3 separate regions of the Homo sapiens genome follow, and all the other regions are linked to region 1. Evidence: fine-mapped expression QTL. A gene starts in region 1. Each other region holds a variant in brackets. All regions are shown on one strand. Distances are from middle to middle.

What was found. PIP is the estimated chance that this variant, and not a neighbour inherited with it, causes the effect. A credible set is the group of variants that fine-mapping cannot tell apart.
Region 2: its variant is the best candidate, but not a certain one, in a credible set for the expression of HAAO in whole blood (INTERVAL, PIP 0.53).
Region 3: its variant is the best candidate, but not a certain one, in a credible set for the expression of HAAO in whole blood (TOPMed, PIP 0.71).

Annotation. Positions count from the first base shown.
Region 1 is chr2:42,790,613-42,794,850 of GRCh38, forward strand. HAAO (3-hydroxyanthranilate 3,4-dioxygenase) reads right to left here and starts at 1,971. Exons shown (of 10, transcript NM_012205.3): 1 at 1,845-1,971. The coding sequence starts at 1,924. RefSeq lists silencers at 1,818-2,257, 2,438-2,537, 2,618-2,707.
Region 2 is chr2:42,634,388-42,638,632 of GRCh38, forward strand. The region is part of intron 4 of MTA3 (metastasis associated 1 family member 3); the gene reads left to right. Among named protein-coding and RNA genes, the nearest start is that of MTA3, 68 kb to the left of the region's middle. The variant A/G (reference allele first, on the strand shown) is at 1,771.
Region 3 is chr2:42,683,564-42,687,808 of GRCh38, forward strand. All of the region lies in intron 9 of MTA3 (metastasis associated 1 family member 3), which reads left to right. Among named protein-coding and RNA genes, the nearest start is that of OXER1, 78 kb to the right of the region's middle. The variant G/A (reference allele first, on the strand shown) is at 2,680.

The DNA.
Region 1 (4,238 bases):
CCTCCACCTCCCGGGTTCAAGCAATTCTCCTGCCTCGGCCTCCTGAGTAGCTGGGACTACAGGCGCGTGCCACCACGCCCAGGTAATTTTTGTATTTTTAGCAGAGACGGGGTTTCACCATGTTGGCCAGTCTGGTCTTGAACTCCTGACCCCAAATGATCCACCCACCTCAGCCTCCCAAAGTGCTGGGATTACAGGCATGAGCCACTGCGCCCGGCTTGAAAGTTGTTTTTTAAAATCAACTTCACTGAGATGTAATTTAGGTACATACAGACAATTCTTAAACAACTCCACTCAAGAATTCTTTCAACCCATCAGTCAGAATGCATAAACCAGACCTGCCCCTCCTCTGCCCAGAACTCTTCAGCAGCTTCTCACCTTGCTTGCTTCAGCAGCTTCTCACCTTGCTGAATAGTAACCCCTCCTGTAAAATTTATATGTTGAAGTCCTAACGCCCAGTACTGCAGAATGTGACCTTATTTGGAATAGGGTCCTTGAGATGTAGTTAGGTTAGGATGAGGTCATCCTGGAGTAGGGTGAGCCCCTGATCCAATATGTCTGGTGTTCTTTTAAAAGAGGGAAATTTGGACACAGACACACACACAAGGAGACTGCCTTGTGAAGACGAAGGTGGAGGTGGGCGTGGTACAGCAGAAGCAAGAATACCAATGATGCCAGCAAACCACCAAATGCTAGGGAGAGGCCCGGGCAGATGGACGCGAGACCTCAGGGGGAGCGAAGGGAGGACTGAGAAGGAGCGACTGCAGATGGGGATGAAGTGTTGGAAGGAGGCAAAGATGATGCTACATCTTTAATTGGGGGTGGGCAACAACAGTGATAGAAGAGATCTTTGGGGAGATATTGACTGTTGGCCATGTGGTATTGCATGGTAACCAAGAGTGTGCGTGGACTCTGGAGTCGAACTGCTCCGTGGGTTGAGTCTGGAGCCTATCGCACAGGCGCTCCGTGACACTAGAAAAGTTACTTATGAAAATCCCCCCTCACGGTGCTACTGTGAGAATGAGATGAGATGATGTAAAAACACTTGGCATAGTCCTGGGCCTGCTGTTTGCCTTGAGGTGCCACCCTACTGACCATGTCCTGTGGACACAGCAAAAATGGGGAATGTAAACCTTGATCTAGCTGGCATGTGGGGCCCCGCCATGGAACTGGGGGGATGAGGGAGGTGACCATACCACAGGGGAGGGCCTGAGAGGTCTGCCTGAGAAAGATGGCAGCTGGATGGCCAACCCTGTTGGGTGCTGCAGGCAGAGGCTACTGGCAGAGGTGGCCTAGGGAGGGTCTGGTGTGGTGTGTGTGTGTGTGTGTTCGTGCACACCTGCATAGAGGGGCCCTGAAAAAAGCAAGACATCAAGATCTTCCCAAAGGAGCGGATTCTCTGCCTCCCCCTTTGCCTGTGGCTTCTGGGACAGGGTTGGGGTGTATGATTTGGCTGCCCCCAGGCCTACATTCTAGTGCATTTCTGCCTTGAAAACCACCCTCCCCACACTTTTGAGTTTTCCCAAAATGCACAGTGTCACTTGGGGTTGGAGAATTGTTTCTCAGCCCTGGAAGGAGAGGTGCACCCTGTCATGTCATCTCCTACAGCCTGAGAACCAGCTCAGCCTTCTTCAGAAGTCAAGGCCACAGTCACAAGAAAGAGGAACAGACCGATGTGGTGGAACCGGAACAGCCTGTCTCCATCTTCCCCCAAGAACCAAGAGATTAAAGCGGTCCTTCTGCAAGCTTCTGGGTCCAGGAACTCGGAGCTGGAAGGTGAGGGCGCAGATGGAGGAGGGGGAGGAGGCGAGGGCAGGGGGCGGCCATGGGGGTGCTGGACTCACATGAGCTTGTTGCAGACCGGGGGCTGGAAGGAGCCCCGGTTCTCCTTCACCCAGGCCCTCACTCCCAGGCGGCGCTCCATGACTGTCCCGGGCGCCTCCTCGCAGCGCTGTCCTCCCGCCGTCGGAGGCCCGCAGCTCCGCCCAGCCGCCTTTTTAACCAGAATCCCAAGCTCACGAGGCGGAGCAAACCCCCGCGACCCCGTGGTGGGGGCTTGGGGCCCGCGGACTTTGCCCCCTGGTGGACTTTGGTCTGAGCCCGCCGCCCTCCGCGCCACTCCAGGCCCTGGCGAGCGCGGCGGCGGCAGCGCTGGGGAACGGCGTCCCGCGCCCTCTGCTTCTCCGCGGGGCAGGGGCTCGGTCCCCGCCACCGTCTCCGGGGCGCCCCACACACTGGCGCCTGCGGTGGGGCCTGCTCCCGGCGGAGGACAAAGAATCCAGACCCTTCCTGGACGCTTGTCCCCAGACGTTCCTTCCCTCTACGCCCCGAGGGGAATCCCAGGGAAGGTTCCCAGAAATACTACAGTGAGGAGATCGCGGGTTGGAAGTCCCAGCACCTGAGAACACGGTGCTGGCGCTGGGCTCAAGATTTGGCTTTCCCATCTGGAAAAGGGGAATGACTGCCCCGCCACTCAGGGCTGCGGCGCTCACCCAGCGGGAAGCCGCACGGCGGTCCCCGCAGGTCCCGATTCAAGGTGAGCCCCAGACCTGCTGCGTGCGGCCGGCAGACTCCGCCGCGGGCTCGGCGAGGGGAGCGGTGCAGGCGCCGAGCTGCGGAGCCCGGGCTCAGGGCAGGACCGCGAGCCCTCCCCACCTGAGGCCCAGCCGAGCGGCCGCTGTCCGCGCAGTGTCGCAGTGGACCCCGAGCCCCGTGCTGAACTCCTTAGGCGTCTTAGGAACATACTCAGTTCGCACGCAGCTATGGGAGGAATTTGGCAGATGTGGACACCGGCCTCAGTGTCCTAGCCCTCGGGAATCTCGGGGTGTTAATGATGACAGCCCCGTGTGAGAGACTCTAACAGTTATCCTGGGGGTGAGGGGCTGGGGCGCTGGGCCTGGGCGTGCATGTGTGAGGAAAGAGAAATCTGCGCGGGTGTGGAAGATGGAGAAGCCTGTCTTTCTGCAGGACTCAGAACTTTCTTAGGAAGTTTGGAGGGAGTGGGAGCTGACGGGTAGGGGAGGAGGAAAATGGCTCAGGCCCCTGACACCGGAATCCAGACTATAGAGTTTAAGAAACTAAACGCCTCTAAATCCTGCCCTCACAGCCCGCCTGGCCTGGGCTGGTTTTCTCAGCATTCCAGACATAAAGACTCCTCTAGTACAACTCAAAATCAAAACCCAGACGACAGGAAGCCGAATTCCCCACTGAGACCCTCCCGTTTCCTCTCTGACGCTCTTTTTTTTTTTTTCATTTTTCTCTCTCCTTTTTTTTAGTTATTTATCTAGCACAGTTTTAGCTGAGCACTTCTAGTGCAAAACTAGAATATCGTTTTGCACCCAAGTAACTCACACCACCTTCTTTATTTTTCTCATCTACAAGTAATCAGAGGAGACGTAAACAATGACACATGAAGCACTGAGGATCTGAGATGTGTTAAGTTTGCTTTGAGTGTTAGTTAAATGGAGGGATGGGTGAGTGGGTGGATGAAGGCATCAATGAATTCACACAAAAAGGAGAAAAAATTGATTTCAGCCCAACAGATGTTCCGTTACCATAGTGCAAAGGAAAGAATGATAGGTACTCTGTATTTTAACTGATGTGATCAAATAATGTGAATAATTAAGGCCACAAGTAGAATTTTGGGGGTCTGAAATATCCCGAGTAACCCTCTACACAAGCTAAATGACTGCTATGTTATCACTATCAAATATGCCCTCTGATTTGTGCTGTGTAGAGCAAATACCACGTCTGGTCTACTGAATTGGCAAGCCTCCTGGCTCAGGCACCACTGGACTCCAATGTTCAGAAAACGGACAGTTGCTATGTTGTGAGTATTCTGGCATTGTTGAGTTGGAACCATCTGGAATCCTTCTGGATACTGACTGTTGGGCCCCTTGTAGTTTCTGGAATTTACCCGCTTCTAGGAGCCACCTCTCTCCTCTGCACACAGGAGCTCATCTGCACTAAAGGATTAGAAGCAAATAGAATCTACCCCACGATCCAAGCTCAAAGGATCTGGCCTGCTTGCTGGTGTCTTCCCCTGGCCTCCGCTGGGTGGTGTTTGCCTGCCCAGGTCACTGAGACCAGCAGATCCTTCTAGGCTTTGCTGAACCTGGCTGGTAATAACTATCTGACCCTTCAATTCTTCCATACACTGAACTCGTTGCTCCAGTGAATCCCTTTCCCAGCCCACCTTGTTTTGTCTCTGCCTTTCTGTCTCTCCCACTTTCTCACCC
Region 2 (4,245 bases), 160 kb before region 1:
CTGGGGAAGACTCAGGCAACTTACAATCATGGTGGAAGGGGAAGCAGGCATGTCTTACTTGGCAGCAGGCGAGAGAAGGAGAAGGAGGAACTGTCAAACATGTATAAAACCGTCAGATCATGTGAGAACTCACTATCATGAAACTGCCCCCGTGATCCAATCACCACCCACTAGGTCCCTCCCTCGACACGTGAGGATTATGGGGATCACAATTCAAGATGAGATTTGGGTGGGGACACAGAGCCAAACCATATCACCCCCTTTCATTTTAAATTTAAATTTTGTTATTTTTTTAAAAGTGTATGGATATGGCTGTCTAATAATATCCAAGGCAGTCATTTGCTTGGTTCCAACTCTGTAGTCATTTTCAACTCCTCTCGATGGTGGCTTCTGGCATTTATACTGTTCTTATATTCCTACTATTAATTTTTCAGTTTTAGGAATTTACCTTTACTTCTCTCTTCCCTATTCCCTTTGCCATCTGTTTCTAATATTATCACAACTTTTATTTAACTTAGTAAACAGTCTTTGTGTTTTATGAACATGTCAGTATTATGTATTCTTTCTTGTATAAACTTTTGTTTTCCATGGAGTTTATCATTGTTTTACCTTTGCCTTTTGATTAAGTCTTCTAAAAATGTAAAAGTTTTTATTCTCATATATCTAAAAATATTTCTCACACTTGGCCAATGATTTGTTTAGACATAGAATTTTGGTTTGGAAATCACTTCTCTCAGAATTTTGAATCTGTGCTATTCTGTTTTATGCGGTTGCTGTTGAGAAATCTAGTCTTCTGAAAGCATTTTGCATCTCTGATCTTTATTTTTTTATTTGATTGTTCATTGTGTTCATTGTGTTAAATGCTGTCAAAACTGTCTACTCACTGATTTACCAATCCCAGAACCTAATATTTTGACACTGTTCTTTATACAAAGAAATATTAAGAATCTGTAACTTGGGCCGGGCAAAGTGGCTCATGTCTGTAATCCCAGCATTTTGGGAGGCCGAGGCGGGTGGATCACCTGAAATTAGGAGTTCGAGACCAGCCTGACCAACATGGTGAAACCCCGTCTTTACTAAAAATACAAAAATGAGCTGGGTGTGATGGTGGGCATCTGTAATCCCAGCTAGTTGAGAGGCTGAGTCAGCAGAATCACTTGAACCCAGGAGATGGAGGCTGCAGTAAGGATAAGATCACACCACTTGCACTCCAGCCTGGGCAACAGAGCGAGACTCTATCTCAAAAAAAAAAGAATCTAGAGTTTGTGGCAAATGTAAGACTTGTAAAGTCAATAAAAAAATGTCTTTCTTTAATGAAGCAATAATACTGTTTGTTGAACAAGGCAAGTTTAATGTCAAACTCTGCATCTATAGGAATTTTTCTGTTTTTTTTTCCCAAGACAGAATTTCACTCTGTCACCCAGGCTCGAGTGCAGTGGCATGATCTTGGCTCACTGCACCTCCTTCTCCCAGGTTCAAGCAGTTCTTGTGCCACAGCCTCCGCAGTAGCTGGGATTACAGGCGTGCACCACCACACCCAGCTAATTTTTTATATTTTAGTAGAGATGGAGTTTCACCATGTTGCCCAGGCTGGTCTTGAACTATACCTGAGCTCAGGCAATCTGCCCGCCTCAGCCTTATAGAATGCTAGGATTACAGGCGTGAGCCACGGCGCCGGGCCAGGAATGGTTTTTTAAGTTTAGTGAACTTAAAAAAGTTCACTAAACTTGGTGATGTTTGTTAATCATGTAGATTCCTGGACCCATCCCA[A/G]GACATTGAAATTCAGTAAGTCTGGTACAGCACTAAGATATCTGCACTTTTCTAAGTGGGTAGTCCCCGCTTCAAGTTGTATCAAGGTAAAAGAAAGTTTGGGCCAAGTGTGGTGGCTCATGTCTATAATCCCAGCCTTTGGGAGGCCAAGGTGGGAGGATCGCTTGAGCCAGGGAGTTTGAGAGCAGCCTGGGAAACATAGCAAAACTCTATCTCTACAAAGAATTTAAAAAAAATTAGCTCTGCGTGTGGCACACACCTGTAGTCCCAGCTACTGGGGAGGCTGAGGTGGGAGGATTGATTGAGTCCAGGAGGTTGAGGCTGCAGTGAACTGTGATTATGCCGCTGCACTCCAGCCTGGGTGACAGAGCTAGACCCTTTCTCAAAACAAAACAAAACAAAACAAAAGAAGAAAGTCTACAGGCAGGGGGTAAATGATCACTAATTTAAACTTCTTTCTCTTTCTTTCTTTTTTTTTTTTTTTTTTTGAGACGGGGTTTCGCCCTGTCACCAGGCTGGAGTGCAGTGGTGCGATCTCGGCTCACTGCAACCTCCGGCTCCCAGGTTCAAGCCATTCTCCTGCCTCAGCCTCCAGAGTAGCTGGGACTACAGGCGTGTGCTACCACTCCCAGCTAATTTTTGTGTTTTTAGTAGAGACAGGGCTTCACCGTATTGGCCAGGCTGGTCTCGAACTCCTGACCTCGTGACCCGCCCGCATCGGCCTCCCAAAGTGCTGGGATCATAGGCATGAGCCACTGCGCCTGGCCCTCCTCTTTCATTTATACAAATATGTACTAGCTTTAGATAAAAGAAATATATAACCTGTATGCACATTTTTACGTTTTTCAGTCTGTAGGATTATATGGGACATACCATTAAGCAAGTAGCAGATTCCAGGCTGATCAGCGCCTGCTGTTGAACGTGTGACTTTGTTTTGTCGTAATTATTTATTCACATGTCTTTGTGTCCCAGCACCCTGCGCAGTCTCTGAAACAGATTATACTTTGAAAACCTTTTCAGTGACCTGTGGGAAAGTAGGTTTTCTTTATAGCAATTCTGTACTCCTTTGTGGTTCTGTGTAGAAAAGTAGTACGAGTGATTATATGGGCCTGGAGTGATCTTTGTGTTGTGGTCTTTGATACACTTCATATCATGCTTGGGCATCTTTATTATTTAAGGATTAAAATATCGTACATGACACATGATTAGGTTCATTGCTTGAGACTCAGTATAAATTGCCTATGGTATCTGTATACGGAATTTGATAATAGTTCCTTTAGGTTGGGGTTAGCTTAAAATTTACCATGTTTTTATCTATGAGCCAAGATTTGTTTGGCATAAAGGAAACTAACGCTTTAAATCTCTTTTTAAACCACTTTTATCAACAACTCTTGGCATGGTAATATATGTGTTAATTACATATTCATATTTACTTCATAAAATAATTCTGACTCAACCTCTTAGCTGTTAATGTATGTACATGAAAATTGTAAATGTTAGATTTTCATTTTTAATTTGGGGAGATGTACAATATAGCTATATTAAAGAAAAATTTAAAACTTAGATCACTTATTATCCTTTCATCTTTGTATAAAAACTGCATTTCCAAAAACAATTTGTACTTCATTATAACCTGTGTTTCCTTATTTCCTAATATAATTATGAAAATAAAGGTTTTATAATTTAAAATCTTTTATTTCAGACCATATGGAAGAGACTTTTAAAGTATGCTATATTGTTTGTTTGAATTTTCAGTGTCCGTTAACCCTTAAAAGTCAAGGGACTATTAAAGACAGTGGTATTGGCTGGGCATAGTGCAGTAGTGTTTATAACCAGTTACAGATTTCTTTTTTTCTTCTCCACTATCACTGTTTCAGTTGACTAGCCTTAAAAAAAAGTACCTATTAAAATAAAATTTAGCAGGTTTTACTCCTCCCCATTAAAACAAGCAAATCTGACTTTAGAGAACTTATTTTTTTAAAAAGGGGGATTTTTTTTTCTAGGTGATTGAGTATCAAATGTTAGAAATATTGCTTTGTCAGCTGTTAATGAGGGGAAAAAGTAAGTGAAAACTATTTTTAGAAACCTCATTTATTAAGCATATTGCATGTGTGAGCACATATTCACAGGTCATAGATATTCTGTGGCAGCTGTCGATGTGCTAACGGCAGCAGAGCAATTTCCCTAGTTGCAATTCTGTCCGTTATGAGAACATGTCAGATAATTGTTACCTTTTCTTTTTTTTTTTTGAGACAGGGTCTTGCTCTTTTGCCCAGGCTGGAGTTCAGTGGTGCAAATACAGCTCAGTGCACCCTAGACCTCCTGGGCTCAAGCAGTCCCCCAACCGCGAGTAGCTGGGACTATGCCCTGCTTATTTTATTTTTTTTAATTTTCAGTAGAGTTGAGATCTTGCTGTGTAGCCTGGTCTCAAACTCCTGGGCTCAAGCGATTCTTCTACCTCGGCCTCCCAAAGTG
Region 3 (4,245 bases), 110 kb before region 1:
CACCATAATGGAGAATCAGTGAGACCTCTGAGCTTGTTTTTCTGCAACTAGACAGTCCCATCTGGGGGTAATGGGAGATAGTGATAGATCATTAGGCATTAGATTCTCATAAGAAGTACGCTACCTAGATCCCTCGCATGCACAGTTCACAATAGGGTTCATGCTCCCGTGAGAATCTAATGCCGCTGCTGATCTGACGGGGCAGACCTCAGGGGGCAGTGGGAGTAATGGGGAGTGGCTGTAAATACAGATGAAGCTTCGCTCGCTTGTCCATTCAACACCTGCTGTGCAGCCCAGTTCCTAACCAGTCCATGACCTGGGGGTTGGGGACCCCTGAGTATCCTATGTATATTTTTTATTATTAAAAATTTTTTTTTCCTCAGCTTTACTGAGGTATAATTGACAAGTAGAAAATACATATTTTCAAGGTATACAATATGATGATTTGATATACATATACATTGTGAAATGATTACCACAATTAACACATTCATCACCTCACTTACTTACCCCATGCAGTGGGGTAAATACCAGGTCATCTTGTCTAACTATAGTATGTACTTTGTTTTGTCTTTGTGTTTATGGACTTACTGTCTTTAGTTAAACTTATAGTTCCTTTGAAATGGTGAAATTTCCATTTGAGATTTTCATAAATAGCTTTCTATGAAGTCATCCTTTATTTTAAATTATGAAAATAGAATCTTTATAGACCATTACGTATTTGATGTGAGCCAATAGCCTGCCTTTTATGTTGCTGCATCTTTACTGAATTGTTTGACACAAAGTTATTACTTACCAATATGGGCTGATAAATTAAATCCCAGACATAGTAATTAAAACTGTTAGTGTCACTGATAATTTGTTCTTCTGGCAAAACTTCACTCATACTTAAATTGTTACATGCCATGATTTAAATTTGTAGGATGCGCAGCTGAAAATTTAAAGTGCATTGGTATTTAGCTTCAGATGGTCAGAATAACAATAGAGCAGTGTTATTAATATAACAGTTATTAAAATAATAGAGCTACAGCTACATAGAAATTGCAAAGAATGAAACCTAACAAATCAAATCTACACTGTGAGGCTCAATGAAAATTCAAAAAAGATAAATAAAACCTGCAGATCTGATAAAGGAGTAGGAGTTGAGAAACACTAAAGTGAAAATACTTTTCCCTGCACCAAATGTAATACCTCATTCTGTGCTCTGGTGGTATTTACTGAGTACCTGTAACATGCCAGGCTTGCAAAAAGGCACTAGGCATGCAACAAAAATTGAATGTGGTCCTTACTTCAAGGAATTAGTTCACAGTTAAAATCAAGAGATTGAAATATACACCCAAGTAAAATATAATTAATTACTTCTGTCAGTACATGAACAAGTGTATAGGAATATTAAAAAGGATTCCTTGTGCCAAAGTGGAAGAGGCTTCATGGAGTTAACTGGCATTTTAGCTGGGTCTCTAATAGGTAAAGAGAGAAAAGAGCAGATAGCAAGGTAAACACTGAGGTGTGAAACTTACAGCACTCCTAGGCACTTAACACAGGACTAGAAGATAACTCTGTGAACTGTAGGTTAGTGCAATATACTTGGACATAGAGGCTGGCATCAGTATCAGATAAAATTAACTATGAAAATGAGTATAACAGTAATAATACTGTTAGATGATTTTTTTGTTGTCTTTGTGGTCTAACAAAATTACAGATTTGTAGCATGGTATATATTAGTTTTTCTTTTGTTTTACCCTAGCTTGTTTCAATAGAGAGCTTATTGAAACATTAAGTACTAGGGAAGATGAAGAAATAGACATCAGATCGGGCCTCCAAGATTGTGACTTTGAAAGTCACACTTCAGAATGGGCCAGCTAAGGATACTGCCGTCCCTGCTGTGATTAGAAACCTAACTGCTGAAGTAGGAAGCTAACACTCTACCTGTGGCTCCAACGTGCTGTCTCTCCCTTGAACCCCACCGGCAGGGTGCCTTTAGTACGAAATCCATCTCTCTTGCCAGTGCATCTATGATGCAACCTAAATTATACCCAGAATCTTAGATGCAAGGGAGTCTGGGAAATGTGGATCTTAACCCTGCAGACTGCCCCTTAGGTCATGGTTGTTGAAGGGCCAGTCTTGAAGGGCCAGTCCATATTAGATTTGTTGTATTTTGGAGACTGGAATTGGCTACTTGTGTCAAACCCTTAAAATAAACAGGATAGAATGTCAGAGTGTTAACTGCTCAAAGGGTTTTGTGTTTTTTGTGGTAGTTGTTGTTTTTAAATTATCATCCCCTCTTTCCCTCCATACTTATAAAAGTAATGTATAAACCTAGTAGAAAATAAAATGCAAATAATGTTATTTCCTATAATGCCATCACAGGTACATGATGTTGTTGGGGCAATGTATTTCTTATGACATGAAGTTTTAAGAAGTGTCCTTTTAGAAACTGTCAGGTAGTGTATGCAACAAAAAGTCTCCTGGGCCTCCTCTGCTTAAATACTAGACCTTTACCTGAGCACTGAGCAACTGTGTCATAATGGTGAGTTTTTTAAAGTGGTTTCATCCCACTACCCAAAAGTGATCATTGATTATTTTCTGCTTCCAGTGTCTTAGTTTTCCCAAGTGAATGCATATATTATTGTGTGTTTGTACATTTAAGAACAAATTGTGTAGAAGGCACATATTTGG[G/A]TATAGATATTTTTATATTTAGTGGTTAGCGATAGCTTTATTCCGAAGCTTAATTTAACTTATTTCAAAATTTATACACAGTAAAATTCACTCCTTTACAGTTTTTTACAGTTAAAGTTCTGTGAGTTTTTATAAATGCATACTCCCATAATCATCACCACAGGCTGGGTGTGGTGGGTCACACCTGAAATCTCAGCACTTTGGGAGTCCGAGGCAGGAGGATCACTTGAGCCCAGGAGTTTAAGACCAGCCTGGGCAACATAGTAGACTCTGCCTCTTAAAAAAAAAAAAGAAAGAACAGTCTGGGCATGGTGGCTCATGCCTGTAATCCCAACACTTTGGGAGGCCGAGGCGGGCGGATCACTTGAGGTCATGAGTTCGATACCAGCCTGGCCAACATGGTGAAACCCTGTGTCTACTAAAAATACAAAACAATTAGCTGGGCATGCTAGTGCAGGCCTGTAATGCCAGTTACTCGATAGACTGAGGCAGGAGAATCGCTGGAACCCAGGAAGTGAAGGTTGCAGTGAGCTGAGATCACGCCACTGCACTCCAGCCTGGGTGATGGAGCAAGACTTCATCTCAAAAAAAAAGGGCTGGGCATTGTGGCTCACACTTGTAATCCAAGCACTTAGGGAGGCTGAGATGGGCAGATCACTTGAGGCCAGGAGTTTGAGACCAGGCTGGCCAATATGGTGAAACCCCATCTCTACAAAAAAAAAAAAAATACAAAAATTAGCTGGGCCTGGTGGCACATGCCTATAATACCAGCTACTCAGGAGGCTGAGGCATGAGAATTGCTTGAACCCAGGAGGCAGAGGTTGCAGTGAGCTGAGATCGCGCCACTGCACTCTAGCCTAGGTGTTAGAATGAGACTCTGTCTCCACAAACAAACAAAACTCATCACCACAATCAAGACACAGTACAGTTTCATCACCTCTCCCGTCAAGTCTCCCCTTTTATAGTCAACAATACCCTAGCCCTAATCCTGGCAACCACTGATTTATGCTCCATCCCTATAGTTTTGCCTTTTTCTGAACACTGTGTAAGTAGAATCGTTTAGTAGTATGTAACTTTTTAATTTTGGTTTCTTTTACTTAACATAATGCATCTGGTATTCATCAGTGTTGCTGCATATATCAGTCGTTCATTTTCACTGCCTAGTAGTACTATTCCATTGTGTGAATGTACCACAATCAGTTTATTCATTCACCTGTTGAAGGGAATTTGAATTGTTTCTGATTTTTGATGATTATGGATAAAGTTGCTATAAACATTTTGCATGCTAGTTTTAGTGAACTTAAGTTTTTGTTTCTCTTGGGAAATATGAGCCGTGGGGTTGCTGGGTCTTACATGATAACTATATGTTTAACTTTATAAGAAACTACCTTTGTTAGCTTTATAACATATCAGTGTAGCCAGACTGAACCACATTTTCCAGAATTCCCTTCCCGGTATGTTGCCCTTTAGGGTGGGCCATGAGAAATTCTAGTGCAGGATTTGGAGAGCAGAAATGAAGCACCAGCCATTTTTGTAGCTCATATGTGTTCTCATTTATCTGCTGGC